Regions from separate parts of the Homo sapiens genome. Here region 1 is linked to region 2. Evidence: fine-mapped expression QTL. A gene starts in region 2. The other region holds a variant in brackets. All regions are shown on one strand. Distances are from middle to middle.

Region 1 (16,781 bases), 27 kb after region 2:
TTGCGGTGAGCCGAGATCGTACCACTGCATTCCAGCCTGGGCGACTGAGCGAGACTCCATCTCAAAACAAAAACAAAAACAAAAAAAACTTTACTGAGTTATGATTTAGGTACCATAATATTCTCTAGTTTTAAGTGTACAATTCAATGATTTTTAAGAAATTGACAAGTTGTACAATCATCACCACAATCTACCTTTTAGAAGATTTCCATCACCTCCAAAGGATCCTTGGGTCCATTTACAGTTAACCCTGTTCCTACCCCCCACCCCAGATGACCACTAATCTTTCTGTCTCTATAAATTTGCCTTTTCTGGATGGTCATGTAAATGGAAGTATACAGTATGTGGCCTTTTATGATGGGCTTCTTATGCCGAGTGTAATGTGTTTGAGATACATCCATGTTGTAGCATATGTCAGCACTTCTTTATCTTTCATTGCAAGTAATAATCCGTTATATGACTAGAACACATTTTGCTTATGCGTTAACTAGTTGATGGGCATTTAGATTATTTCTGCCTTTTGGCTATCATGAATAATGTTGCTGAGGCATCTGCATGCAAGTCTTAGTATGGATATATTTCTGTTTCTCTTGGGTAGATACTTAGTGGATTTGCTGGGTCATGTGGTAAATTTATGTTTAACTTTTTGAAAAAATTGTTGTTTCTTAAAAAACTGTGGGCTGGGCATGGTGGCTCACGCCTGTAGTCCCAGTACTTTGGGAGGCCAAGGCGGGCGGATCACCTGAGGTCGGGAGTCTGAGACCAACCTGACCAACAGGGAGAAACCCTGTCTCTACTAAAAATACAAAATTAGCTGGGCATGGTGGTGCATGCCTGTAATCCCAGCTACTGGGGAGGCTGAGGCAGGAGAATCTCTTAAACCCAGGAGGCGGAGGTTGCAGTGAGCTGAGATCACGCCATTGCACTCCAGCCTGGGCAACAAGAGAGAAACTCTGTCTAAAAACAAACAAACAAACACACAAACAACAAACTGTGGTAATGCTGGGCATGGTAGCTCATGGCCTGTAATCTTAGTACTTTGGGAGGCTGAGGTGGGAAGATCCCTTGAGTCCAGGAGTTTGAGACCAGCGTGAGTAACATAGTAAGACCCTGTCTCTACCAAAAAATAAAAATAAAAAATAAAATAAAATAAATTATCCAGGTGTAGAGGTACATGCCTGTGGTCCTGTCTACTCAGGAGGCTGAAGTTGGAGGATTGCTTGAACCCAGGAGGTTGAGGTTGTAATAAACCATGATCATGCCACTGCACTCCTGGGCAACAGAGTGAGACCCTGTCTCAAAACAACAACAACAACAACAACAACAAAACTGTGGTAAAATATAGATGATCTAAAGTTTACCATCTGAACTATTTTTAAGTGTCTAGTTCATTGGTATTAAGAAATTCACATTATTGTGCAATCATCACCACCATTCATCCACAGAACACTTTTCAGCTTGCAAAACTGAAACTCTGTGTTCATTAAACAGTAACTCCCTCTTCCTTCCTCCAACCCCTCGGCAACCACCATTCCTATCTCTATGAATTTGGCTACCATAGACACCTTATCTAAGTGGAATCATACAGTATTTGTCATTTTGTGACTATTTTACTTAGCATAACATTCTCAAGTTTCATTCAGGTTGTGGCATGTGTCAGAGTTGCCTTTCTTTTTAAGGTTATATAATAGCCCTTTGAATGTATATACTACGTTTTACTTATTTATTCATCTCTTAAGGGATGCTGGGGTTGCTTGGACCTTCTTGCTGTTGTGCTTAATAATGATACTAGGACATGGGTGTCCAAATATTTCTTTGACTTCCTACTTTCAATTCTTTTGGGTATATACCCAGAAGTGGAATTGCTGCGTCATATAGTAATTCCATTTCTAATATTTTGAGGAACTGTCATACTGTTTTCCATAGCAGCCATACCATTTTACGTCTTCAGCAGGAATATTCAAGGTTTCCAGTTTCTCTACATCCTCTCCAACACTGTTTTCTGTTTCTTTTGTAGTAGCCATGCTAATGGGAGTGAGGTGGTATTTCATTGTAGTTTTAATTTGTATTTTCATACGTATATATGAAAAAATAATATATATGAAAAAATATATTATACATAAAAATATATAATTTATAATACATAAAATATATTATATATTATATATTATACATAAAGTATATAATATATAATATACATAAAATATATATAATATACATAAAATATATAATATATTTGTATAAAATATGTATTATATATTATATATAAAATATGTATTATATATCATATATAAAACATAATATATATTATATATAAAACATAATATATATTATATATAAAACATATAATATATAAAACATATAATATATATTATATATAAAACATAATATATATTATATATAAAACATATAATATATATTATATATAAAACATATAATATATATTATATATAAAACATATAATATATATTATATAAAACATATATATATAAAATATATAATATATAAAAATATATAATATATAATATATATAATATATAATATATAAAATATATATATTTTATATAAAATATATTATATATAAAAATATATATAAAATATATAATATATAAAATATGATATATAATATATAATATATAAAATATAATATATAATATATAAAATATAATATATATAAAATATTTATTATGTATAAAATATAATATATAATATATTTTATATATAATTTATAATATATTATATATAACATAATAAATTATATATTATATATTATATATTATTATATATAATATATAATATATAGAAATTATATATATTTTATTTTATATATATATATATTAGAGGTAGTTTTGCTCTGTCACCCAGGCTGGAGTGCAGTGGCATGATCTCGGCTCATTGTAACGTCTGCCTCCTGGGTTCAAGCGATTCTCTTGCCTCAGCTTCCCGAGTAGCTGGGATTACAGGCATGCGCCGCCACGCCCAGCCAATTTTTGTGTTTTTAGTAGAGACGGGGTTTCGCCTTGTTTGCCAGACTGGTCTTGCATTCCTGAGCTCAGGTGATCCACCTGCCTCAGCCTCTCAAAGTATTGGGATTACAGGCGTGAGTCACCGTGCCTGGCCCATTTTCATAATTATTAATGATGTTGAGCATCTTTTCATGTGTTTATTGACCATTTGTATATTTTCTTTGGAGAAGTGTCTGCTCAAGTCCTTTGCCCATTGTAAAATTTCGTTGTTGTTGTTGTTGTTGAGTTGTAGGCATTCTTTATATATTTTGGATATTAACCTGTTATCAAATATATGGTTTGCAAATATTTTCTCCCATTCTCTGGGTTGCCTTTTCACTCTGTTGTGTATGTCTTTTGGTGCACAGAAATTTAAAGTTTTTCCTAATTCCAGTTTATCTGTTTTTCTTTTGTTGCCTGTGTTTTTGTTATTTATTTTTAGACAGTATCTTGCTCTGTTTCCCAGGCTGGAGTACAGTGGCACAGTCATGGCCCATTGCTGCCTCGAATTCCTAGGCTCAAGGGATCTGCCTGCCTCAGCCTTCTGAGTGGCTGTGACTGCAGGCGTGCACCACTATGTCCAGCTAATTTTTAAAATTTTTGTAGAGATGGAGTCTTGTTTGTTGCTCAGGCTGGTCTTGAACTCCTGACCTTCCCAGCGTGCTGGGATTATACACCTGAGCCACCACACCTGGCCGCCTGTGCTTTTGGTATTATATCCAAGACACCATTGCCTGATCTAGTATCATGAAGATTTTTTCTGTATTTTCTTTTAAGAGATTCTTTCTTTCTTTCTTTTTTTTTCTTTTGAGATGGGGTCTCGCCCTGTTGCTCAGGCTGGAGTGCAGTGGTGCGATCTCACCTCACAGCAACTTCTGAGTAGGCCTCTTTTTTTTTTTTTTTTTTTTTTTTTTTTTTGAGATGGTTGCTCTGTTGCCCAGGCTGGAATGTAGTGGCACAATCTCAGCTCACTGCAACCTCTGCCTCCCAGGTTCAAGCAATTCTCCTGCCTCAGCCTCCCAAGTAGCTGGGATTACAGACGTGAGCCACCATGCCCGGTTAATTTTTGTATTTTTAGTAGTGACAGGGTTTCACCATGTTGGCCAGGCTGGTCTTGAACTCCTGACCTCGTGATCCAACTGCTTCGGCCTCCCCAAGTGCTGGGATTACAGACGTGAGCCACCACGCCCGGCCGAGATTCACAATTTTATGTTGAAGTCTTTCATCTATTTTGAGTTCATTTGTGTGTGTGTTATTAGCTAAGGGTCCAGCTTCATTCTTGTGCACACAGATACCTAGTTTTTCCAGCACCATTTATTGAAAAGACTGTCCTTTCTCTATTGAATGGTCTTGGCACACTTGTCAAAATCATTTGACCATTATCTGTGAGGGTTTATTTCTGGGCTATCTATTCTGTTCCATTAGTATATAAGAAGCTAGCAAACTGTTTTCCAAGGTGGTTGTACCTTGTTACATCCCACAAACACTGTATGAGGATTCCAATTTTTCACATGCCTGATAATTTGTTATTGTCAGCTCCTTTTGAAAAAAGAACTTATTTTGTGTTTAATTGACACCTAATAATTATACATATTGATGGGGGCATAGTGTGGTGTTTTGAAACATGTATACATTGTGTAATGGCCAAATCAGTGTAATTAGCATGTTCATCACCTCAATCACTTGTCATTTCTTTGTGATGAGAACATTCAAAATCCTCTCTTGTAGCTATTTTGTAATATGCAATATATTATTGTTAACTATAGTCACTCTGCTGTGCGATAGAACACCAGAATTTACTCCTCCTATCTATATTTGGTTAGAGAGATCTTATTGGGTGAGAAGTTACGGTTTTGATCCTTGACATTTAAACATTATGACTTTGTCCAGCATGGAGCAGAGAGGTAGTGAATAAGAGTGAGTCCTTCCTCTCTCACAACCACAGTGCCAGTTACCTGCCTGGACACATTTTGTGCATCTGCAGGGTAGAATGAGTAACCCCAGGCAAGTCTCTTATCACCTAGAGCCTCAGCTTTCTCTTTTAATAATGGCAATAATTCATACTTTACTTACATCGAGTGAGATAAGAGTACATGTACATTTTTAATTTTGGGTGCTAAATAAATGTTGGATCAGTTATACTGAATAAATTTTCCATCAACGTGTTCTTGCTGTGGGACATCCTTGACACTAATTTAAGTTTTCCAACAAATGCGACTTTCCAATATTTTAAGCATGACAGAATTTTGCTAGACAGCTGGCTGTCTTTCTCCTGTTCCTCTGGATGCCACTCAAATATCTTCACACCCATCTCACTCATTAACACTGCGTGAACTGTGAGCTCTCCACCCCTTGTCTGTCTGTAATCTGGGTTGTGACTACTTGTTTATCCAGTTTATCTTCTTTCTCATCATCCATCCTGGTTTCTGCATACTATAACAACATCGGTTGCATACTATTGACCTCTAACCCTGGATCCTGTTGGGATGAAAACATTATCCCAGTCCTGTTGAAAGTAGTGCAGTGGCCTTTTCTTCTTTCTTGGTTCTGCAATGTCTGCAGAGATGTGCTCTTGGGGGGATGAAGTCATCTGGGTAGCTTTCCCCTCCCTGTGCCCAGGTTGCTAGCTGCTACAGTAATTGGCTTGGCAGTGCACTCCCTAAAAGGTTGTCCTTCAGCTGGTACTTCATTAAAGCTGCAAGGCCAACTCCCTTGGGAGTTCCCTTAGACAGCAGCTGTCATGCCTAATTAAGGAGAGACATGGGAAAGGTGTTTTGAAAGGAGACCTCTTATCTCGAAGAACAGTGGCCAGGCCTGAACATTGGAATGGGGAGATGAAGGCCAAAGTGGAGGGCATGGTAGCAGCAGCTCAGAAAACTTGGCAGAAAATGCTTTGCTGGCAGTCAAGGATAAGAGCATTGACTGTTTTTTAAAGGACACAGTATGTCCTTTTTAGCAAATCAAGTAACGAGTCCCATATATATTAAAAATTTTGTACACTTAGGTTGTTAGGTGTCCCATGGAGCATGCACACATGCAAGAACCAATTTTCATATCCTGCAAAAAATACTGAAACAAGTAAGGAAAACTCAAGGGATTCTCATATATATCAATAGGGTATAACTTTAAAGAGTTAGGACCACTTAGGGATGCTGAGACTATTCTATGCTTAAACTGTTAGGGTCCATAGTGAAGACCTGGGGCTTGGGGGTGGAGTCCCTTTATAGTCTAGTGCACCAATATCCAATAGTAATATGGAGGCCGCATGTATTATTTAACATTTTCTAGTAGTCCTGTGTATTAGTTTCTTAGGCCTGTCATAACAAATAACCACAAAATATGTGGCTTAAAACAACAAATACAGTTTTTTTTTTATTCACAGTTTTGGAGGCTAGAAGTCTGAGATCAAGATGTCATCTGGGCCACACTCCTTTTGAAGGCTGTAGGGAAGAATCTTTCCTTGCCTCTTCCTAGCATCTGGTGGTGCTTGGCAATCCTTGGCATTCTTTGGCTTATAGTGAGACCCTGGTCTGTCTCATAGTGAGATCCAGCCTCTGCTTCTATCTTCACTTGGCCTTCTTTACTGTTTGTCTGTGTCTGTCTCCAAATCTCCTTCTTCTTTCTCTTAGGAAAACGCCAGTCATTGGTTTTAGGGCTTAGGATAATTTCATCTGCATGTCCTTAACTGATCACATCTGCAATGAACCTATTTCCAAATATGGCCCCATTTTGAGGTTCCAGGGGAACATGAACTTTATTTATTATTATTATTTGAGACAGTCTCACTCTGTCACCTAGCTGGAGTGCAGTGGTGCCATCTCAGCTTACTGCAACTTTGGCCTCCTGGGTTCAAGCAATTCTCCTGCCTCAGCTTCCCGAGTAGCTGGGATTACAGGCATGTGTCACTATGCCTGGCTAATTTTTGTGTTTTTATTAGAGACAGGGTTTCACCATGTTGGCCAGGCTGGTCTCGAACTCCTGACCTCATGTGTGATCCTCCCACCTCGGCATCCCAAAGTGCTGGGATTACAGGCATGAGCCACCGCACCTGGCTGGGACATGAACTTTAGGGCACACACTATTTAACCCACTGCACCGCATTAAAAAAAAAAAATCAGAAAAGCCAAAAATTTAATTTTATTAATTCTAATTTTTACTTTAACTGAATATTTCAAAATATTATTATAATATGTAATCAATATAAAATAATTCTTAATGTGATATTTTAACATTTTTTAATACGAAGTCTTTGAAATTCAGGGTGTATTTTCAAACACTCATAACACATCTCAATTTTTATTGCCAATTTTTAAAGACTCCGTATTCGCTTGTGGCTGGCTGCCACATCTTGGACAGCACAGTTGGAGTGCTGCGGGGCTGACAAAACTTTTATGCTTCTCAGTGTTTCACCCCATGTTGTCTCCCTCTCTTCATTCCTCTTAGTTTTCAGGGAATTTTAATTTGTTTGGGAAGTCTCAGTCATTATGAACAAAAGAAATAAAAAT[A/C]TACTTTGTACTGGGATCCCAAGACTCAGTGGAGGAAGTAAAATCAGCCAGTTTTGAAAGAAAAGATCTTTATTCAGTTACATTTTTAAGCATCAGTGTTTATTGTATGGTAGAATTCATTAAGCACTCTATCACAAGTGGTTTCAACACGTGCGGTTAATATTCAAGATGTAACTTTTTTTTTTTATTGAGTAGGGGAAATATAAGACCTTATTATTACAGATCTCCCTGCCATGAGATTTGTGACTCACCCATTTATGAGCCCCCAGTGAACACAGCCATTATTCTCTGTCATGTTAAGACAAGAAGGGGCATAAATAAACTTTTTTTCTGGGCTGACTGAACTTAGTCTGTTGCAACAATGAAGTTAAGATCTATATCTCTAAAACTCTGTGTTGTCTTCTCCAAGAATTTAAAGCTTGTTACTTGTTAGCATGCATCTCAGGGCAAGGCAGAGTTTTATAAGCAAGCCCATAGGAAGAAAAGTTTTAGATCCTTGAATTCTTTCTTTATTTATTTTTTTATATTTTTTTAAACTTCTGAGACAGGGTCTCACTCTGTCACCCAGGCTGGAGTGCAGTGGTGCGATCTTGGCTCACTGCAACCTCTGCCTCCCAGGTTCAAGCGATTCTCCTGCCTCAGCCTCCCAAGTAGCTGGGATTACAGGTGCCCACCACCACACCTGGCTAATTTTTGTATTTTTAATAGAGATGGGGTCTTGCCATGTTGGCCAGGCTGGTCTCGAACTCCTGACCTCAGGTGATCTGCCTGCCTTAACCTCCCAAAGTTCTAGGATTACCTGTGCCTGTCCCGTCTGGCTTAATTTCATTTCTTTTTTCTTTCTTTCTTTTTTTTTTGTTTTTGAGGCAAGGTCTTACTCTGTCACCCAGGCTGGACTGCAGTGGCGCAATCTTGGCTCACTGCAACCTCTGCCTCCCGGGTTCAAGCGATTCTGCTGCCTCAGCCATCTGAGTAGCTGGGATTACAGGTGTGCACCACCATGCCGACTAATTTTTGTATTTTTAGTAGAGATGGGATTTCACCATGTTGGCCAGGTTGGTCTCGAACTCCTGACCTCAGGTGATCCGCCTGCCTCGGCCTCCCAAAGTGCTGCAATTATAGGTGTGAGCCACTGTGCTTGACCCTGTCTGGTTTAATTTCAACACGTCTTTACCCACTGCGCTGTAGCCACATTGGCCTTTACTTTCTGTTGAGCAAGCCAGGCACTCTCTTGCCTTTGCGCTAGCTGTGTTTCCCTTATACTAGATACCTAATGACCAACTCCCACCTTTCTTCAAGTCTTTGCTCTAAGGTCATCTCAAAAAGTCCTAGTTAAAATTATACCTTTTATCCCACCCTCTGCTAAGTTCCCTGTACTCATCCTTTTTTCTTTCTTTCCATAGCACCATCACATTCTCCAGTATATTCTATAATTTACTCATTTGTGTTAATCTTGTTTTCCCCATCCCCGGCTACCCCTAATGTAATCTCCAGGAGAGCAGAATCTTTGTTTCATAGTCAATAGTACCTGGCATGTAGTAGGCCTCAATAAATATTGTTGAAAGAATGAGTCAGTGTGCATAACTGCTTGGCTTGAAATGCTGTTCTCCAAACTCAAGGTGTTTTTGGTTATTACTGTTTTTTCCTTCTAGGTTTGGCCTGCCATATTTAATTGCTTTGTTGGGGCCATTTAGTCATTTTTCTTTCTCTAACTTAAGGTCCTTTGGGAAAGGGCTGTGGATCAGACCAACTATTCAGAAAAGCTGGAGGCTTAGGGAGTTCCTGGAAGTAGCTATGCGGCAACTAAGAGAGGTTGGCCCACAATAAGGGTGGTTTCCTCTGACTCTACAAAATCTTAGTGATACTTTTGTAGGGGAAGAAAGCTGTTTTCCCTTTACCATTTTAGGTGCATTGGTTGGGGCCCTGTCAGTCAGACTAACAGAATACATTAACAAGAGAAAAACAAAAACAAGTTTATTGACATATTCATTGCGTATGAACATGAGAGCACCCAGTGAAGAGTAACTCAAGGAGGTAGTTAGAACTTGGGCTTATAGGCTATCTCAGCAAAGACTAGTAAATTTTTAGAGAAGTGAGAAGACAAAGGAAAAGGACCTTGAGCTGCTAGGGACAGCAGATTGTGGGAAGGCAAGTATGTGGGGAAACCAATGGTAGATCAGGGCTGGTTTTAGCAAGGTTTGTTATGTAGATTCCCCTGGTACCCTATCTGGGCTGATAAAGGTCAAGAGTTGTCTCCAAGATCAACTTCTGTCCTTCTTGTTAGAGAGGGAAGTGGGGATACCTTTAAGAATTTATGTCCTGCTTCTGGGGATATAGGGGAGGGCAGAGAGCTTTTCTTTTTCTTTTCTTTTCTTTTCTTTTTTTTTTTTTTGAGACAGAGTCTCACTCTGTCGCTCAGGCTGGAGTGCAATGGCGCAATCTCAGCTCACGGCAACCTCTGCCGCCCGGGTTCAAGTGATTCTCCTGCCTCAGCCTCCTGAGTAGTTGGGATTACAGGTGGCTGCCACCATACCCGGCTAATTTTTGTATTTTTAGTAGAGACGGGGTTTCACCATTCAAGACTGGCCAGGATGGTCTTGAACTCCTGACCTCATGATCCACCCGCCTTGGCCTCCCAAAGTGCTGGAATAACAGGTGTGAGCCACTGCGCCCGGCCAAGCTTTTCTTGTATCTGCATTTTAATAACCCTTAGGCCAAAGTTGTATATTTCGGTTTGCCATATTCTCCTATTCACTGTCTTCATTGTAAATTCTCATGACAATTTCCTTCAAGAACATGGCCTCTGAGATCTTTGCAACCTCTGAAGAGGTGGATGGTTCATTACAGAGAATTTCAAGGCCAGGTTCAGCCTGGCAACAGAGAACTCTGGGGGTAAGAGTTGGGCCTTCCTGATGCCTAGACAAAAGACGGTCACTTGAGCTACTCACTGGGGGATGTAGCTATGGGGATGCTGATGTAGGTGCTTCTCCTGGCCCTGCCTTCTCCATCCTCATTAATACAAAATGGGAAAAGCAGTCAGGTTAGGTATTCCAGATTCACATGGCCCACTGAAAAGGACTCATTCAAAGGCAGATTTTTCTTCTACCATGACCCTTCTTACCTTGCCAATCGTTTATTCTCTTTTCTTTCTTTCTTTCTTTTTTTTTTTTTTGAGATGGAGTCTCGCTCTGTACCCAGGCTGGAGTGCAGTTGTGCAATCTCGGCTCACTGCAAGCTTCGCCTCCCAGGTTCACGCCATTCTCCTGCCTCAGCCTCCTGAGTAGCTGGGACTACAGGCGCCTGCCACCACGCCCGGCTAATTTTTTGTATTTTTAGTAGAGATGGGGTTTCACCATGTTAGCCAGGGTAATCTCGATCTCCTGACCTCGTGATCCGCCCACCTCGGCCTCCCAAAGTGCTGGGATTACAGGCGTGACCCACCGTGCCCGGCCTCTCTTTTCTTATACTGTTACACATATATACACACTTCAGAAATGATCTCTGTCCTGGAGAATTTTATGTATGAGGTCAAAGCAGCAGCCACTCTGACAATTTTCTTCAAATTAGACTTATGCTGCTGGTCACGGTGGCGCACGCCTGTAATACCTGCACTTTGGGAGGCCAAGGTGGGCGGATCACCTGAGGTCAGGAGGTCGAGACCAGCCTTGGCAACATGGTGAAACCCTGCCTCCACTAAAAATACAAAAATTAGCTGGGTGTGGTGGTGCATGCCAGTAACCCCAGCTACTCAGGAGGCTGAGGCACAAGAATCACTTGAACCTGAGAGGTGGAGGATGCAGTGAGACAAGATCTTGCCACTGCACTCCAGCCTGGGCAACACAGAGAGACTCTGTATATAAAAAAAAAAAAACCAAAAAGTTTGGATAACTGTATTACAAAAGTAAAAATAAGTCAATATTAATAATATCTTTTCTTTAACCCATATATCCAAAATAATACATTTAAACATATAATTTCAATATGTAATATAAACATTGTTAATGATGTATTTTATATTTTGCGCTAGTCTTCTAAATCTGTATATTTTGCAACTACAGTGCACTTTGATTTGAACTAGCTGGATTTCTAGTGCTCAATAGCCACATGTGGCCAGAGGCTACCGTACTGGATAGTATATGTAGATGGCTCTACCCTAGAGTGACTTCATCTGTGTTACATGTTATTCTAACAATGTATCTTCTGGTTTCCCAGCCACAGCTGACTTGAAGCAGTAAATAAATGGTGAGAGTGACAGAGTGCTAAGAATAGTAGAGAAGGGGCAGAAGAATTATTTTTATAAGTGGCTGAGGTCATTCATTGCAAGCACAAATGAAAGGTATGAACCTTTCATACGTTGAGACCTGCTGAAGCATACAGTGTGGTACCTGGTAGAATAATTGATAATTTTTCATGCTTGCCTTCCATTTCATAGGTCAGATCACTTAAAGAAGGCTACATCATGTTCACTCTTGGCTACAAACATAGGGAAGTGTGAAGAGTATGTGGACAAAGTTAAGGAAGCTTTCTATCAAGTGTTGCTAAAATAATGGTGTTCTAGTACAGGAAACCTGGGAAATGTACGTGTAAGTAGAAACCCAGGACTACATGATGAAGCCCTCTTCATTTCTAAAGCTGGGAGCTCACAGAAGTCTTGGAGGAGCCTGCAAGTGTGCCTTCAGCTGGGTGTGCCCCGTCTCATCTTCCTAAGATTGCTAACTTCTTCGGTTCTATGGGTTTCCCTTCTGGTCCATGGGGCAGAGATGCAGCTGGTGCCTTGGAACCTGCAAGGCTCAACCTTAGCCTAGACCTTAGCTGTGTTTGTGGGACATCAGGAGTCTGGCTTGTGGATTTGGAATGTCCATCTTTTGAGATGGACTTTCTTGGAACTCACCACTTCATGGACACCCACTGGGGGCAATGGTAGCAAAGTGTGTGGGTCAGCTGCGTGAGCTGTAGCATGCAGATTCCAGCCAGCAGACAACAAAAGAAAACAAAAAGCAAAGCACTCAAATCAAATACCACCTTTGGGTTTTCTGTTTTTCTCTTGTGTATATGGCAGACGACAAAGTCAGGGGTGAGGGGATAGCTGTCATATAATTAGTGTACATTGTTCTCATGTAAAACCATCAGTCCACGGCTGCCTGTTAAATAATTTTGTCTCTTTCTTTATTCCATTTTTAGGCCGAGGAGTCTTGTAAATGTAATGGCTGGAAAAACCCTAACCCCTCACCCACTCCCCCCAGAGCCGACCTGCAGCAAATAATTGTCAGTCTAACAGAATCCTGTCGGAGTTGTAGCCATGCCCTAGGTGAGTTCCTAAATCTTCAAGGAAAGTATAACGAGTTCATTGTAGCGTGAGACTCTTAACTTACTGAATTCTGTGGGTTCACCAAATTTGAATGCTGTGTACCTCTGTATGAGAGCAACAACAAGAGCCTCTCTAGTCTCACGAGTTTGCTGGGAAGGGCTTCTCGTGAGAGACAAATGCTGCACTGTGTGCAGTGACTTTGTCCCTTCTTCCTTTCAAGAGCTGAGTTGGACTGGGGGATTGCCAAATAAGATGAAACATGACAATCGAGCTAGTTAGCATGAATAATGTGTAACATGTCCTGATTCATTTTGGGGGTTGGGGCCTGAGGGTCTTTGACCTCAGGGTTGAAACCTCAACCAACTGGTTTAATGATAATAATGATCATTTTTATTATTTCTGTTGCCCTGAACTTTCTGGGGTGCTTCATTTTATCTTCATATTCCTTAGTTTTGTGTATCTGATAGCTCTTTCTTCACTGGGCTGCTCTTTATTGTGTTTATTGAATGTTTACTGGTGGTTTCCCTTTCAACTTTCTTATCTGACCCTGCAAAATAATCATTGTCAGTGATGGCTCAGTAGGCTCTGCTGCAGTCACTCAAAAGGCCTGTGCTAGTATGTTGTTCTTTGTCCTAATACTAGTTTTATGATTAAAATATTTAAAAAAATCATGTGTTGTTTGAGTAGATAAAAGTTGAGGAATTAGTTTTTCCTAGATACTAAAATTTCAGTCCACGAAGAATCTTAGACTATTCTTACTTTCCTGCCTTCAGTTATACAGTCTCCCCCAAAATGTCAACAAGGCCAGTTTGCTGTCCGTGACTGCAAGGACATAGCACTCACTGGGCAGAACGTTCTTGCTAAGGTAGTTGCTCTTTCCACCTGACCATTATAAGTGGGTGACTTCTTATGCCATCATTTCTCTAGAGCTTCCTGCTTACAAGAAATGGTGTCGCCTCCAAGGTTAGCATGGTGTTAGGTCGTCTGAAATTTTATTTTGTACTCAGAGAGTATTTCAATATTTACAGAGCATACAAGTAGATAATGTGATCTTCCCAAGAAGTCATCACATTGGAATAACCTTCTGAAAATAGAAATAGTCCTGATCTCACAAAAGCAACACACTAATAATTTCATCATTTTGTTGACTTAATTGGTATCTCAAACAATGTGAGCTCTGAGTTTTGAAGCACTCAATACAGAGCAAAAATTTCAAAAGTTAGAGAACTGTCCTTGATTATAATTTACCTTTTTAAAAAAATAAATAAATAAAACAGAACGAAACAAAACAATCACTAACTCTGAATGGAGTGAATGGAGTTTAGGATTGCCTCAGGAAATGTGACGTAATAAATGTCTGGACTCAAGAAATCCTTAAGCCCTAGGCTTGAAGTGTATTTGTTATTGATTGGGAAATCCTATTATCCTACATCAATTAACATTTAAAACAGGATCTTCTTTCTTTCTTAGCCGAGCAGATTGTCTCCATTCTAAGCACGTAAACACACATGAATGCCTGAAGGCAGAGACAGTGCTTCACAAAAAAAGCCAACTTTGTTTCCTTTTTTATTTCTTACCAAGCTTTGAAAACAAATGCCCTCATTCTGCAATACATAATCAAGAATGAAGAATGAAAAAAAAAATCACATATCCTTTGACCTGGCAAATCCATGCCAGAAATTTAATCTGTGTGTAAATTAAGATGTGCCCTCAAATTAAACTAAAAGGACGGTGACAGTGTTTTCTGGCCTTACTTACGATAGTAAAAAGCATGAAACAACCTAAATATTCCAATGTAGGAGATGATTGTGAAGAAATCAGGTAATAAAGCAGCTTGATAGGAGGTTTTATAATTTAGGACTAAATTATTGGATCTATCAGCCTGAGTTCAAATCCTAACTCTATAACCAGTAGCTGTGAGTATGAGCACATTACTTAATCTGCCTGGACCTCAGTTTTTTCAACTCTGAAATGGGTTAATACATAGTAGTATTTACCTTGCAGGATCATTGTGAGGATTAAATGAGATAAGAAAAAATCTTAGAATAGTACCTGGCATGTAAATACATGATTATTGGCTGATGTTGTTCGTAGTAGTGGTACTATAACACTATCAGGGTTCTTTTACTTCACACAGCAGATATATACTCTGTCTAGCTTAAATAAGAAAACAATGCATATAAGAAGGGTACTAGTAGCTTCTAGAAGCTGAAAACAATGGGAAAACAGGTTTTGATCTTGTTTGGGGATCTCAGCTGCAGAAGTTCACAGAGCTTCTGTTCAGTCTGCTGCCACTGAATCATTTAGGATTCAACTCCAACTGCCTCTGTCCCTGTGAGTATTGGTTCAGGATTTAAATACCCTGTGGAGGAGCTTGTGCCTGTTATGTGTTTAACTCTGAAGTTTACCCCAAGGGAACTAAGAAGTTGGTCCTTTCCCAAATACAGGATGCTGACTCAGAAACAGCATTGATGTTTCATGAGTATGATCCCATTTTATTACTTTAGAAAATATAATACCATAAGGCCGGGCGTGGTGGCTCACGCCTGTAATTCCAGCACTTTGGGAGGCCGAGGCTGGCAGATCACAAGGTCAGGAGTTCGAGACCAGCCTGGCCAACATGGTGAAACCCCGTCTCTACTAAAAATACAAAAATTAGCTGGGCATGGTGGCAAGCACCTATAATCCCAGCTACTCGGGAGGCTGAGGCAGGAGAATTGCTTGAACCTAGGAGGCGGAGGTTGTAGTGAGCCGAGATTGCACCACTGCACTCCAGCCTGAGCGATATTGCGAGACTCTGTCTCAAAAAAAAAGAAAAAAGAAAATATAATAGTATAAAACTTTTTTCTATTTTACTCAACACAGAACACTTCTGTGACCAGATGTGTGGGTTTTTTTTTTCTTCACTCACCAAGCAATTCTCCCACTCTCTGAACACTAGCTGGAGGTCCCATAATTCATTTCGGTTCTGACATGACCTACTTGGAGATAGCATCACATCCCACAGGTTAAGGGCACAGTCCCACAATAGTGCTCCCACTTCAGATGCCAATTGCAAGTCCCAGGTTATGACCTTTGCTTCTGACCTACCGGCTATAAATCAGGGTTCCCATCATACCCCTTCCTTGGTTTCAATAATTTGCTAGGATGGCTTACAGAACTCAAGGAAACACTTCAGTTTACTGGTTTAATATAAAGGATACACAGACAGCCAGATGAAGGGATGCACATTGCAAGGTTTGGGGAAGGGGAGTGAAGCTTCCTTGCCCTCTCCAGGTGCACGACCCCCCAGGCACCTCCACATGTTCAGCAACCTGGAAGCTTGAGCCTGTAATCCCAGCTACTTGGGAGACTGAGGCATGAGAATCGATTAAACCTGGGAGCAGAGGCTGCAGTGAGCCGAGATCTCACCACTGCAGCCTGGGCGACAGAGCGAGACTCCCATCTCAAAAAAAAAAAAAAAAATTTTTTTCATACGGCTTTATCTCTACACTTTCCCTCCCTTACCTTTCTTGTAGATTGATGGGTGGGGTTGAAGGTTCCAATCCTTTAATCTTCTAATAACCTGGTCTCTCTGGTGAGCAGCTTCATCCTGGGTTATCTGTGCACTATCTTAAGTCACCTCATTAGCATAAACTCAGGTATGATCGAAAGGGGCTCATGATGAACAATAAAAGATACTCCTCCTGCTCAGGAAATCCCAAGGGTTTTAAGAGCTTGTGACAGGAACTGGGACAAAGACCAAGTATATTTCATACTATACCACAAACATGTATTTTAATATATATGATCAGGAAAAGGTCTGGAAGGATGTATATTGAGTTGCTGACTGATTTTCTCAGGGTACGGGGGGTATAGGTATTTAAAAAATATTTCCCCCTACTCCTTCCTTTCTTCCTTGTTTCTTCTCTATTCTTTAGTCTGCTTTCTTAAAACTGAAATTACTGCACATTTTCAAGTGGT
Region 2 (14,968 bases):
CAGGCACCTATAATCCCAGCTACTTGGGAGGCTGAGACAGGAGAATTGCTTGAACCTGGGAGGCGGAGGTAGCAGAGAGCTGAGATTGCGCCGCTGTACTCCAGCCTGGGCAACAAGAGCAAAACTCCATCTAAATAAATAAATAAATAAATAAAATAAAAAGGAGCCCAACAACAAGAGTCCATGCTGTGTTATTTTTATATGAATTTTATGAATAGGCAAGACTATATAAGCCAGAATAGCAATTGTCTTAGGATGTTGATTAGAAGGGGGCAAAAGGAAGTCTTTTTTTTTTTTTTTGAGACGGAGTCTTGCTCTGTTGCCCATGCCGGAGTGCAGTGGCGTGATATGGGCTCACTGCAACATATGCCTCCCGGTTTCAAGCGATTCTCCTGCCTCAGCCTCCCAGGTAGCTGGGATTATAGGCGCATGCCACCACGCCTAGCTAATTTTTTGTGTTTTCAGTAGAGACGGGTTTTGCCATTTTGGCCATGCTGGTCTCGAACTCCTGACCTCAAGTGATCTGCCCGCCTTGGCCCCTCAAAGTGCTGGATTACAGGTGTGGGCCACTGTGCCCAGCCAGGAAGCCTTTCTAGCACTGGGGATGTTCTATATATATTGATCTGGCTGGTGAGGAATCAAGTGTATCCATATATAAAAATTCACTGAGCTGAACAATTAAAATTAGTGTACTTAACTAAAGCATATTGTCTTTTATTTTATTTATTTGCTTATTTTAGAAATAAGGTTTCACTCTATCCTCCCACACTGGAGGATAGCTCACTGCAACCTGGAACTTTTGGGTTCAAGCCATCTTCCTGCCTAACCCCCCAAGTAGCTGGGACTACAGGTATGTGCCCCCATTCTCAGGTAGCTTTTTTATTTTTTGTAGAGACCAGGTCTTGCTATATTGCCCAGGCTCATATTATCTTAAAAAAAAAAAAAAACTTGCTGAAAAAATAGAATAAATATTCCAGAACAGAAAGACAAAAACAGCTGAAGACACATATATATTGGGCTTTGTCTCCTTTTGTTTCTTTCGTTTTTCTTTCAGTGTGAAAAAATGCATAAAAGCTTATTTTAAAAAATTGATGTCAAATGCTATTTGGAGTAGAAGATGTCATTTTTCTTTACAAGCTAATAAAAATATTAAACTCAACCTAGCCAAATATAATGCACATTTGTTGGCAGGTGTTTCAACTACTACAGATTAAGGCCTTCCCTGAGTAGAAGACTAGCTAAGTAGTGGTTTAGATCCTTCCGGAAAGAACTGCTGAAGGATGTGTTTAGCAAGAAAAAAAGCCAATGTAGAGTGAAGGAGTATATTGAGCATGGGAATCATTAAAATACATTGGAAATGTTAATGATCTATTGATTGCATGTTGTGGGCTGAATTGTGTCCCTCCAAAATTCATATATTGAAATTCTAATCCCTAGTACTTCAGAATGTGACTGTATTTTGAGATTGTCTTTAAAGAGGTAGTTAAGGTTAAATGAGGTCATTAAGGTGGGCCCTAATCCCATATGACTAGCATCCCTAGAAGAAGAGATGAGAACACAGAAACACACAGAGAGAAGATCACATGAAAACACCGGAGAAAAACCACCATCCACAAGCCAAGGAGAGAGGCCTCAGAAGAAACCAATCTTGCTGTCACCTTGATCTTGGGTTTTTAGCCTCCAGAATTCTGAAGAAATAAATTTCTGTGTTTAAGCCACCCAATCTGTGGTACTTTCTTATGGAAGCCCTAGCAAACTTATATACTGTGGTAAAATCAGAAGTCAGTTTGTGTCATAAAAATGTAGATAAAAAATTATAGACAATAACAAAAAAGATGGGAGCATTTGGTGAGTACTTCTATACTAACATCTTGCTTGATTTTTAACTATGTAGGATAAACACATGTCCTTTCCTAGAAATGAGACCCTGGCAGAGTTGAGTAGTTGTGAGAGACCGCGTCCCACAAAGCCTCAAATATCTTCATCTAGCCTTTAACGGTGAAAGTTCACTTGATCCTTCTCCATGGGTTTATTTTGCAAACATCAAAAAACATGACCAAAGATACACTTCCGTACATATTTACTTCTGGGGTGGGCAGGCAATTGGGAAATGAGATAAAGAGAGATATAAAAGAGCAGTCTTTAATTACATATTTATTATATATGTTTATGGAAAATGAAAACATTAAAAATCTGGTTGGTGAATATACAAATATATTACTTTATTTTTCAATATGTTTGAAATATTTTATAACAATATAAAACTATTGTGGTTTTGAAGGGATATAATGTTACTATACTGAACAATCGTCATTTTTCTTTGTTTTTCTTAGCCAAAGCATTTGCTGATGTATAGCACCTATTTTATACATTGGAACACACTACTCTGTGCTTTGATTTTAGGCTTAAAAGGTCAGTGGCAGTGTGCTCAGCCAATCAGGAATTAGGATTAAGGAATTGAAGCCTTTTATACTAAAGGCTTCCCTTATAAGGGGACCCTAAATTAGAAAACCTGTTTTGAGAAAGATTTTTTCCCTAATTTGTGAAACTATATATATGAATGTTTTTATATATTTAGGGAATTAGAATCCCTCAGGTTTATTTTAAACAATTATCTGGCACTAACAGGAATACAATTTATGATGTTCATATCATTCCAGAAAATCTAGGTCACACCAAAGTCGGTTCTTTGGAAATTTGATTTCCTTATATAATTTTCAAGGTGCTTGAAACAATAAATTCTCATGTGCTGCTTTGGAAAAGTAGAAAGTCATTTAGCCTGAATTCAGAAGAAAGCCGACTTTATTTCTTTTACTTACATTGTACTTTCATTGTAAATGGTAAGTAAACTGGTGAAATAAGTATGCGTTAATATTTAAAACAGAAAGCAATATAAAAAAACCCCTCTGTCTTTACAAGGGCAAGGCTTAGCCAAATATACTTAGGTCTATTCATATTAATAATAGAAGATTGTTACTAAGGATAACTAAGAATTAAAATAAATAAGGTTGGGTAGTGCAGTGGCTCATGGCTGTAATCCCAACACTTTGGGAGGCCCAGGCAGGAAGACTGCTGAGGCCAGGAGTGAGAGACCAGTCTGGGCAACATATTGAGACCTTGTTTCTAATAAAAATTGGAAAAAAAAAAAAAAGTAGCCGAGTGTGGTGGCACATGTCTGTAGTCCCAGCTACTTGGGAGGCTCAGGTAGGAGGATTACTTGAGCCCAGGAGGTCGAGGCTGCAGTGTGCCTTGATCATAACACAGCACTCCAGCTTGGGTGACAGAGCTAGACCCTGCCTCAAAAAGAAAAAAAAAAAGGTTGAATAAAATAGCACTAATGGCGCTGGGCATGGTGGCTCACGCCTGTAATCTCAACACTTTAGGAGGCCAAGGCGGGTGAATCACGAGGTCAGGGGTTCGAGACCAGCCTGGCCAACATGGTGAAATCCTATCTCTACCAAAAATATAAAAAATCAGCTGGGCGTGATGGTGGGCGCCTGTAATTCCAGCTACTCGGGAGGCTGAGGCAGGAGAATCGCTTGAACCCAGGAGATGGAGGTTGCAGTGAGCCGAGATAGCGCCACTGCACTCCAGCCCAGGCGACAAAGCGAGGCTCTGTCTCAAAAAAAAAAGAAAGCACTAATGGTATTTGGGGCATGGTTAAGATTCACACTGGAAATGATTTAATTCATAAATGCTTGAAAACTAGGGAAGGGGATTTTATGTTTCCTCATCCTAGGATTCATTTATTATTTTCAAAACTTTTTTCCTAGGAGGATTTATTTTATTTAATTTAAAATAAATGTTCAGTAATTATAGCCACTTCCCTCAGAGGAAGGTTGGCCCAAGGAGCCCCACTTAGGCATTGACATGTCTCTTTATTTTACACTCATATCCAACTGCTGTTTCTAAAAGCAGGTGTCTGGGAAGAATGTCAGTCATGGTCCATGTACTGGGCCAAACCTGCACTTTGACCACTTGATCTGTACCCTTACAGTCTGTGCCTTTACTGGGGATAATTTCAATCCATCTGTGGGATTCAGGGTTACTGGTACATTACAGAAGCTGTATAGCCTTGGTAGGAAGGAATATGGCAAGAAACTCTGCTAGATGATATAACAATAGATGGCCACAAAACTTGCCTTTTTTAGGAAGGCATCTCTGAGCAAGGAATACCAGATGAATAGGGTTAGCCATGCTGTTTGGTGGAGGGTATCCACATAGTACAGCAAATGCAAAGGCCCTGAGGTAGGAAAGCATTTCCTGAGTTTGGCTGAAGTATACTGCAGCACCAGGGAGAATGGGAAGGGGTGGACCTTATCAACTTCTTGTTATATAATCTCGTGTTCTGAAGTTGAAATTTTATTTTATTGCTATGTACCTTTTTAAATCTTTCCCTTACTTTTGAATTTCCCATGCATTTATTGAACATATACAAAATTGTGCTTATATGTCAATGTGAGTTTGTTTTTAACATAAATGGTATTATGCTGCACTGAGATTTATTCAACAGTGTTTCTTAGAGATCTATGTTATTATATTTTTATAAAGGTCATTGTGTATAACAGGTATAAAATATTCTGTTGTGTGAATATACCACAAGTAACCTCCAGTGGTCAGCCTGCCTCTACCATGCCCACTCTCCAAGCTTTTATTTTCTGAATGTAGCTTCTTTACCTCAGTAAGTGGTAAATACTTTGTAAATGAAAACATTGCCTTTTATTTTCTTGGTAGTTATTTCTTAAAAGTACTGTGTGCACAGAAAGAGCACACTGAATGCTTACAACAACCTAATTATGGAAAAGCAATAAGCCTCCTGAATCCTTTGCCCTTGAAATTTCCTTGCCTGGTGCTCATAACACACTTTGAATAGGTCTTGAAACCACGGGCCTTCAGCCTAAGGCAGTATGTCATCTGGGTACTCTGAGCAGGGAAATAATGAAAAATAATGTTCAGTTAATGGCACAAGCCATTCGCCACTCAGACAGTGATGGTTTTCAGAGTGGATTGAAAGGAGATTGGCTACTTCTGCTTCAAAACATCCTGGAAATTGTCTGCCTCCTGAATTCTGAGGGACGCTTGGGAGGAGGAGTTGATAGGTGACTTAATGTTAAATCTGGGTTCCCTCCCCCAATTGTCACTGTGAAAATTTTCAAACATACAGAAAAGTTGAAAGAATTGCGCACTGTGCCCATTACCTAGACTCTATTATATGGACCCCTATTTGCTTTATCATATCTCTGTTCATCCACCCTTTACCCATGCATGGAGGCATCCATACATCTTATTTTTGATGTATCTCAAAGTACAAAGAGCACCATTAGAGTTCAATGCTTGTGATTTTTCTTTTTTTAAAAATTTTTGAGGCAACATTTATATCCAGTGAAATGTACAGATCTCAAGTGGATCATTCCATCAGTTTGACAAATGCCTGCAAGGTGGAACCCAAGCTCTTATTAGTATCTGTTAAATCCATGTTAGAGGTTGATCAGAGAAGCACAGCCTTTAAGACTCTCACCCTGCTTTGCGGAGAATGGCAAAAATCTGCGAAACATCTCAGCAGAGCCAGGAGAGAGTAACACTGGTAACGTGAAGCACGTCAAGCTAAGAAAGGAAGCACTGAAATTAATTGTCCTGAATGGAACCTGATAAGAATCTGCCATTTCATCCCCTCAAGACTGGACTCAAGTTGGGAGAGAATATTGCCTTTTGCCCTGTCTAAGCTAATATCACTGTTTAGATCTACAAACTCCCCCACCTCCCAATGTTTATATATTAACCTGCATTACAAGTCAAAATAACACAGAGAATCTGGAAAAAGAAGAAGGGGAATGTTTCCCACGAAAAGCACACCCCTTAAAGCGTCTGGCCTGAGAGCTATACAGCATGCATAAAATCTGATAATAAGCACATTATGACCCACATTGCATATAACAAAAAGTAGGGCACTTCTGAAGGGTCCTGAGAAAAAGCCCTGGGCTTTTAAAACCTGCTTAAGAAGGCGATCAACGGTACACCACTTTCAAACGCAGCACTGACTTGTATGCTCCACAGTCATCAACAGTGAAAACAACAGTTTTCAACAAGAGTTGGAAACACTGAGTTGAGGGTTTTTTTTTTCTTTTTAAAGTTTGAGGCCAAAATCGATATTTATTCTTTTGAATTATGCTTATATCTTTTTCCTGGTTAATACGCACGCGGTGGCACAATTTTGAAAACTACGTAACGTTATAGAACCACCACCCAGAAACGAATCCTGTTAACAAACTTTTTGTATTCAAACTTTTTCCACTGCATAGTTTTTGACAATGCTTTTTAGACAATCTTTCTTTTAGCAACCAGCACTTTCAAACAAAAATTACAGAGAATAGTAAGTTTTTTTCCCCTCCTCCGGCAGATTTGACCCAGAAATTGCTATGGGAAGAAAGTGTTAATTATATTAAAAAATAGTTTGACAGAAAGTATTTAAAAAGAGAAAGGGAGAACATCACGTCTTTATTTTGGTGAATTAGCAACAAAGAAAAAGATTAGCATGGACGGGTACTTTTCAAAAATATATTTTTTTTCCTCTGGCTCCCGCTAGGGTGGAGGAAGTTGTCTCTCTGTCAGAGACAGGGTGGAAGAGAGTGAAAGGACAAATGATTGAGAGGCTGCCCCCTCCCACTGGTGCAGGCGTGCGGGGGTCGGATGGGGGGCCGCGGAGGGGGGAGGTGGCCAGCAGGTGCCTGGGCTCCAGGCCCCTACCCCCACCCTCGTCCCCACCCTCACCCACACCCAGGGATTGGCCTCGCCCCCTGGCGGGCGAGCGGTAGGTGTCGAAGCACTGGGGTGGGGGGTGCAAACCCCGCGGGCAGCGGAAAAGAGGCCGTGGGGGGCCTCCCAGCGCTGGCAGACACCGTGAGGCTGGCAGCCGCCGGCACGCACACCTAGTCCGCAGTCCCGAGGAACATGTCCGCAGCCAGGGCGCGGAGCAGAGTCCCGGGCAGGAGAACCAAGGGAGGGCGTGTGCTGTGGCGGCGGCGGCAGCGGCAGCGGAGCCGCTAGTCCCCTCCCTCCTGGGGGAGCAGCTGCCGCCGCTGCCGCCGCCGCCACCACCATCAGCGCGCGGGGCCCGGCCAGAGCGAGCCGGGCGAGCGGCGCGCTAGGGGGAGGGCGGGGGCGGGGAGGGGGGTGGGCGAAGGGGGCGGGAGGGCGTGGGGGGAGGGTCTCGCTCTCCCGACTACCAGAGCCCGAGAGGGAGACCCTGGCGGCGGCGGCGGCGCCTGACACTCGGCGCCTCCTGCCGTGCTCCGGGGCGGCATGTCCGAGGCTGGCGGGGCCGGGCCGGGCGGCTGCGGGGCAGGAGCCGGGGCAGGGGCCGGGCCCGGGGCGCTGCCCCCGCAGCCTGCGGCGCTTCCGCCCGCGCCCCCGCAGGGCTCCCCCTGCGCCGCTGCCGCCGGGGGCTCGGGCGCCTGCGGTCCGGCGACGGCAGTGGCTGCAGCGGGCACGGCCGAAGGACCGGGAGGCGGTGGCTCGGCCCGAATCGCCGTGAAGAAAGCGCAACTACGCTCCGCTCCGCGGGCCAAGAAACTGGAGAAACTCGGAGTGTACTCCGCCTGCAAGGTACGCGCTCGCCGCTCTCGGACCGCGGATGGGTGCTAGGGGCCCAGCCCGCGGGACCCCCCTCCCCCTCCCGCTTCCACCTCCGCCTCCCGCCTCCTGCCTCTCGCCTCCCGCCTGGGGCCGCTGCACCGCGGAAGTGCTCTTGTCGCCCGCGCCCAATTAGCTTCTTCTTGGATAAGAGTCCTGCTGGGTTTGAAGAAGGGGGATCACTAAGACGGAGAGCCCTTCATTCCTTCCGCTTGAAAGGAGTAGCTTCGGCATCCGAGCTCCCGGGCTACCTTGGGGTTTTGTTGCTCTGTAGGAGCTCGCTGGAGTCACTTTCCCGGGAGTGGAGCGGTGCTCTCCATGTGGCGGGTGACCCAGGGGCAAGGAAAAATCTTTTGGGGGACTGAGTGGTCCCTTCTGCAATCGATCCCTTCCTGTGTCCCACTGGGAGGAACTGGGTGCAAGGAGTGGGGGTGGAGAAGACTCCCGGACTCCTGGCGCTTTGGGAAAGCGAAGGGGAGGAAAGCGCGGGGTGGGAAGGTGGGCAGAGTCCGAGGCGAGGGTCTTGTGGTGCCTGGCGCCCTCGGCTGGGGGCGGAGGCACTGCCGCGCGCGGTGACAGCCCTGTCATTATTGTATTATTACTTGTTTAGTTAAAACGCTGTCCCAGCTGCTCGAGGTGTAAACAGGATTTGGCAAAGTGACAGCCCAGCGCGGCGGGCGCTACTGCTCAGTTTGAGGACACCCATTTCTTGCTACCCACTCTCCATGCCAGTTTAGGCACCCTGTCACCTCCAGCTGCAGATCCAGATGTGGAGGCTGTGTTCCCGAGGTGGGAGGATTGCCCGAGGCCGCGGGGCAGGCTGGCCCTGCGCTGTCAGCAGCGGCTTTGTTTTGACAGGGTGACAGCTGAGGGGGGCGGGGACTTGGCCTTGTCAGCTCCTGCGGCCTGTGGCTGAGGCAGGGAAGAGACACACTCACACACACTCACACCTCCCTGTATTCTTCCTGCCTGCTGTAAAGAGGGTCAAGTTCCCAGATTCCAGATTCCCGATTGTCACAACCAAGCTGCAGTGACCACTTCTGAATTTTGACATAACTATAATTTATTCTACTAGAACATCTAGGTTATACTCTTCTTGGTACTTGCAGGAGCTTCTCAGTCACAATGGAATGTCTATGCTTGCTCTTTTTCCACACCATATGCTCAGGTTTATGTTAAGCACCTCTGTATCCTACACTGGTTCAATAAATATTTGTTGAGTGAATGTAGGATCTAGCCCAGTGCTCCTCAAACTTTAATGTGCATGGGAATCTCCTGGGGAAGCTGGTTAAAATGCTGATTATGAATCAGGTGGTCTGAGGTGGAAGCTGAGAGTTTGCATTTCTGACAAACTCCCAAGTGATGCTATGCTAGTCCACAGACCACATTCCAATTCAGACCTGGACAATATATTATTTGTCCCCTTTGATTTTAGCAGAAAAGACAGAAACAAATAATAATGCTATGTGGTTATTTCTGAAGAAGGAATGCAAAAAAGATGAAGTGGGGAGTGTGCTTCTAAGAAAGGTGCAAGCCCAGGAGTTGATCATGAAGGGCATTAGACGAATGAGAACAGGACACCGACTGTAGTAGGCAGAAGGGCGAGCTATGTACAGAATTAAGAACAAGGTCATGGGTACAGGGCATACTGCTTGGGTGATGACTACACCAAAATCTCACAAATCACCATTAAAGAACTTATGTAATCAAACACCACCTGTTCCACAAAAACCTATGAAAAAAAAGAGCAAGGTCAATTACTTGGTGGCCTTGGCGTTTCGCAGCCAAAGTGGGCTCATGCAGGAACTGTCTCAACTCAGTGTTTCTGTTCTGGCTTTATTTTAAAATTTATTTATTGGGTTCTCATCACCAGCACCTCTTAAAGACTTCCTGCTGCCTGCTGTAGCTTTAATATCTGAAAACTTTCCTGAAGTTTTGGTTTTGTCTAAAACCATGAGCATATGTGGCCTGCATTGATATTTTTGATCTTTTCAAATTTCCATGGGTGAGATGTAGCACCACTTCCAAGTGGGATTTGAGTGTTTCCTGGTCACTTTCATGACCCAACAAGAGAAAGAGAAAATTTATTTTAACGTCTTTTTTTTTTTTTGAGACAGGGTCTCACTCTGCCACGTAGGCTGGAGTGCAGTGGCATGATCGTAGCTCACTGCAGACTCAACCTCCCTGGGCTCAGGTGATCCTCCTACATCAGCCTCTTGAGTAGCTGGGACTACAGGCATGCGCCAGTACACTATTATTATTATTATTTGTATTCTTTGTAGAGATAGGGTTTCACCTTGTTGCCCAGGCTGTTCTCAAACTCCTGAGCCCAAGCAATTTGCCCGCCTTGCTTCCCAAAGTGCTGAGATTATAGGCATGGGCCACCATGCCTGGCTGAAAGTGTTCATTTTTATGTATCCATTCATTCAGTAAATATTTAGAGGGTTACCAACTGGGTGTCAGGCATTGGGCTAGGTGCTGGGCCTATGACACACAGAATTTGTCCTTCAGGAGTTACTTATTGTGTGTGTGCACAAGTGCATGTGTGTGTATGCATGTGTTGGGGGCCTAGGGATGAGGGCAGTGAACCAAAATTACAGAGAAGTTCAGAAAAACTACTTTCTTGGAGTAGTTGCGGACCCAGAGCAGGACAGTTCATAGACTGGGGCACTGGTAGGGTGGGATTGGCTTCCTGGAGGAAGTGTCAGTGGCTGCTAAGAACTCTTGGCAGGGCAGAGTGGGGTGGGGTGAAGCTTCTTGTAGTGGAGAAACTGAAAGCAGTTGTGGAAGCTTGGAGGTGGGCCAACTGAGCCAGACCTTTGTTGCCTAGGGCCACCGGCTGGGGTGCGTGGCCAAGAGGGCACTGAGGAGTGCAGGAATCTTAACCTGGAGAGTGACATTATCTCAGATTTGCTTTTTTTAAAAAAAAAAAAAATTTAACTGGACTTGATTGGGTACGAGGGAGTGTAAGAGAGCAAAATCTGTGGTTCTCTCTCAGCTTGTTTCTGCACTTAATATGAGCAAGCCCAAAAGGACAGATTGCTCTACCTTTGCCACAGGCCCCTTGGCAAGTTAGATTAGAGAGATTAGAGAATGAGGAGGGATCTAGAAAGAGATAAGGTAGTTCACTGGGGGGCTTTTGAAAGAAAAACAGGTCCCAGGCCTGATATAAATCTGGCCTTTAAACTTCACAAACGAAACCAAAAAAGAAGGGAGCTAAGTCAGCCAGGGTGACGTGCCACACCCCAGAGAATAGAAAAAGAAAAAAAAAAAAGAAAAAAGAAAAGAAACAAACAAACTTGTTTCGCAGGATCCAGATCTTTGAACTGTGTCCTGGTAAAGGTTGCTTCAGAGTCATTTTGGTTCTGTGTTCATTAAAAATGTAGATCTAGGCCAGGCGCAGTGGCTCAGACCTGTAATCCCAGCACTTTGGGAGGCCGAGGCGGGAGGATCACTTGAGTCCAGGAATTTGAGGCCATCCTGGGCAATATAGTGAGACTTCGTCTCTACAAAAAATAAAAAATTAACCAGGCGTGGTGGCAGAGGTTGCAGTGAGCTGTGATTGCACCGCTGTACTCCAGCCTGGGTGACAGAGCAAGATTCTCCCTAAAAAAAAAAATAAATAAATAAATAAAATAAAGTAGATCTGACCATGTTATACCCACACTTCAGGCCCTTTAATTTCTCTTTATTGTGGTCCACAAGGCCCTGCATGGCCTGGCTACTGCTATCTGTGGCTCCTTATCGAGGGTTCAGGCACATGGTTTCCTTTCACCTAGTCGGGGGTGAGGTGGGGTGAGGGGCTTTGCACATGCTGTTCACTGGGACTGGAAGCTCTTCTTTCCACATTTTAAAATTAACTCCCAACCCTTCCTATAGAACTCAGATTCCTTGCCTTTCCTTTACCCCCCTGAGCAGCCTTCCCATTAGAAATTATCCAAATTCATCTGTACTCTTCCTGGTGCTTATATTATGATTTTTATGATTTGTATGATTATTTGATGTGCATTTAGAATCTTTGAATAGATTCTTAGCCATGCGGTTATTGACTAAGCGAATGAACCAGAGAAGAGAAAATGGAAGAAATGATTAGCTGTGATGTTAGCAGTTGTGGAATTTTAACTTAATCACTTCTTGACAACTAAGTAGAGATTTGTCATATAGGACAGTTCTAGGTGTCCCACAGATATTGATAGGATTGGGTTATTTATTTATTTATTTTTTTGAGACAGGGTCTCGCTCTGTCACCCTGGCAGGAGTACAGTGGCGTGATCTTGGCTCACTGCAACCTGTACCTCCCAGGCTCAAGTGATCCTTCCACCTTAGCCTCCTGAGTAGCTGAGACCACAGGCATGCACCACCATACTTGGCTAATTTTTGTATTTTTTTTGGTAGAGATGGGGTTTCGCCATGTTTGCCAGGCTGGTTTCCAACTCCTGGGCTCAAGCAATCTGCCTGCCTCCACCTCCCAAAGCGCTGGGATTACAGGTGTGAGCCACTGCACCTGGCCTATTTATTTATTTATTTATTTATTTATTTATTTATTTATTTATTTATTTTAGAGACAGGGTCTTGCTCTGTTGCCCAGGATGGGGTACACTGGCACGATCATAGCTCACTGCAGCCTTGAACTCCTTGACTCAGGTGATCCTCCCACCTCAGCCTCTTGGGTAGCTGGGACTATAGGCCTGCACCACCATGCCTGCTTGGGATTGGGTTTTTAATGTTATAAAAGAAACCCCAAGTGAATGTATGAGTAGGCCAAATCCAAATCTTCTTGAATTAAAGTATATCATCTACTAACTTCAAAAGAGAAACAAAACCCATTGACTAACCCTTCCTAAAGGAGCAGGCCATTTATATTAATACGTAAGAGGAGGCAATAGGGTATAGTGGCTAAGAACATGGGCTTCAGAGTTCAGGCTAATCTGAATTCAAATTTTGGGATATCCAGCTCTGCAACCTTGGATAAGGATTTCATTTAAGCCTTTATTTCCCTGTCTGTAAAGGAATGATGTTACCCGCCTCATGGCATAACAGTGAGGATTTAAAATGGGCTGTATTAGACATCCAGCATGGTGTCTTGCCCATGGCAAGCCCTCAGAAGGTAGGGGAGACGCTGTTAACTTGAAAGTCAAGTAAGAGCAACAGACTCAGTCCTGAATCCACCCCAGCTCTGCCACTTGTGTGATCTTAGGCACAGGTCACTTAGTTTTTCTCTGAGCCTCAATGACTGCATGTATAAAGTGGTGATCATGACTTCAACCTTAAAGTTAAAAGAAAAAAGTGTCCCCAGAATTCCTAGAACATAAAGATGCTAGGTTAATGCTGGCTAAATAAACGGAATTGCCTGGTGCTTTACTCGTATATCAGAGTCAGTGGCCACAAAGCATTTATGGAGAACCCAGTTGCTTGGGTTCTCGGCAAGGTGCCACATTTAAGGAGTTTCATGGGTACAGGACTATAAAATTAGTCTTAATTGAAAAAATAGGCCCAGGGCATGGTGGCTTGTGCCTGTAATCCCAGCAGTTTGGGTGGCCAAGGCAGACGGATCACTTGAGCTCACGAGTTCGAGACCAGCCTGGGCAACATGGTGAAACCCTGTCTCTACAAAAATTACGAAAATTAGCCGGGCATGATGGTGCGTGCCTGTAGTCCCTAGCTACTCAGGAGGTTGAGGTGGGAGGATGGCTTGAGCCTGGGAGGCAGAAGTTACAGTGAGCTGAGATCATGCCACTGCACTAGACCTTGTCTCAAAATAATAATAATAATGATTTATAATCTAGAAGTAGCACTGGTTGTAGAATATACAGAGAGCAGAGGTAGATGTGCCACCACAAAACAAAAAGCATCCTCTGTTGGCTAAGGGCTGGTGGGTGGGGCACTAGAACAAGCCTTATAGTTGGAGAGCGCCCCCAACACCTTTGTATTTGTCAGTCACTCCCCCAGAGAGCAAATTGTCTTTTTCATTTGTCAGCATTTAGAGCAGTGGCTCTCACCCAGGAGCTATTTAACCTCCCAAGGGACATTTGACAATGTCTGGAGACATTTTCAATCTTTGCAGTTGGGAGGAGGGAATGCAACTGGCAACTAGTGAGTGGAGGCCAGTAATGTTGCTATACATCCCACAATGCACAGGACAACTCCCCCCAACGAATGATTATCTGGTCCAAAATATTAATAGAATTAACAGAAGTTGAGAAAGCCTGTTTTAGACAAATACCTTTGCAGCACAGAAAGAAAAAACATCAATGGTTTTTGTTTTGCCCCCCCCTTTTTTTTTTCTGAGGCTTTTTTGAGGCAGGGTCTTACTCTGCTTCCCAGGCTGGAGTGCAGTGGGCTCAGGTGGTCCTCCCACCCTAGTCTCCCAAGTAGCTGGGAGGCTACTTGGCCAGGCGCACGTCACCATGGCCGGCTAATTTTTGTATTTTTTATAGAGATGTTTCGCCAACCTGGGTTTCGCCATGTTTAACAGGCTGGTCTTGAACTCCTGGGCTCAAGCAATTGGCCTGCCTTGGCCTTCCAAAGTGCTGGGATTACAGGCATGAACCACCACGCCTAGCCTAAACCAATGCTTTTAATATGAATATGACTAACACTTAAAATCTGAAAAATCTCACTTCGTGAATCATGGGCATATATTTTAAACAGCTTTATTGCGGTATAATTTATAGATCATAAAACTTGCCCACTGTAACTATGCTGCTTTTGAGTTAATGTATGCAGTTGTGCATCCATCACCACAACCCAGTGTTATGACTTCTTCCATCCCCGAAAGTTTCCTCTTGCCGTGAGTACCTTTTTTTTTTTTTTTTTTTGAGACGGAGCCTCACTCTGTCACCCAGGCTGGAGTGGAGTGCAGTGGTGTGATCTCAGTTTACTGCAGCCTCCACCTCCCGGGTTCAAGCAATTTGCCTGCCTCAGCCTCCTGAGTAGCTGGGATTACAGGCAAGTGCCACCATGCCCTGTTAAATTTTTTTGTATTTTTAGTAGAGACGGGGTTTCACCATGTTGGCCAGGCTGGTCTCAAACTCCTGACCTCAAGTGATCTGTCTGCCTGCGCCTCCTGAAGTGCTGGGATTACAGGCATGAGCCACCACACAAGGCCCATGAATACCTTTTTAAAGTGATATTTTGTATCAAATTGGTTGTTGGTTTGCAAACAGAAACTAAATTAGAAATATCTTTTTGGCAAGGCTTCAGATAGGCAATATTGTCACAGCAAAGTACAAAGCATGGAGGGAGGTGGATAAGATGTTGTTTTAAAAGATCAGTCTTTAGCCACATAAGTTTATTGCATACAATTGTATCCTGTGGTGACTTCTCTAAAATGCGGTAA

What was found.
Region 1: its variant is fine-mapped to the expression of KAT2B in tibial nerve (GTEx, PIP above 0.99).

The regions. Positions count from the first base shown.
Region 1 is chr3:20,059,642-20,076,422 of GRCh38, forward strand. KAT2B (lysine acetyltransferase 2B) reads left to right here. Exons shown (of 18, transcript NM_003884.5): 2 at 12,692-12,818. Among named protein-coding and RNA genes, the nearest start is that of KAT2B, 28 kb to the left of the region's middle. The variant A/C (reference allele first, on the strand shown) is at 7,511.
Region 2 is chr3:20,033,179-20,048,146 of GRCh38, forward strand. KAT2B (lysine acetyltransferase 2B) reads left to right here and starts at 7,268. Exons shown (of 18, transcript NM_003884.5): 1 at 7,268-7,602. The coding sequence starts at 7,300. RefSeq lists silencers at 6,530-7,169, 7,340-7,469, 7,670-7,729 and enhancers at 6,893-7,863, 8,580-8,769, 10,131-10,300, 10,381-10,540.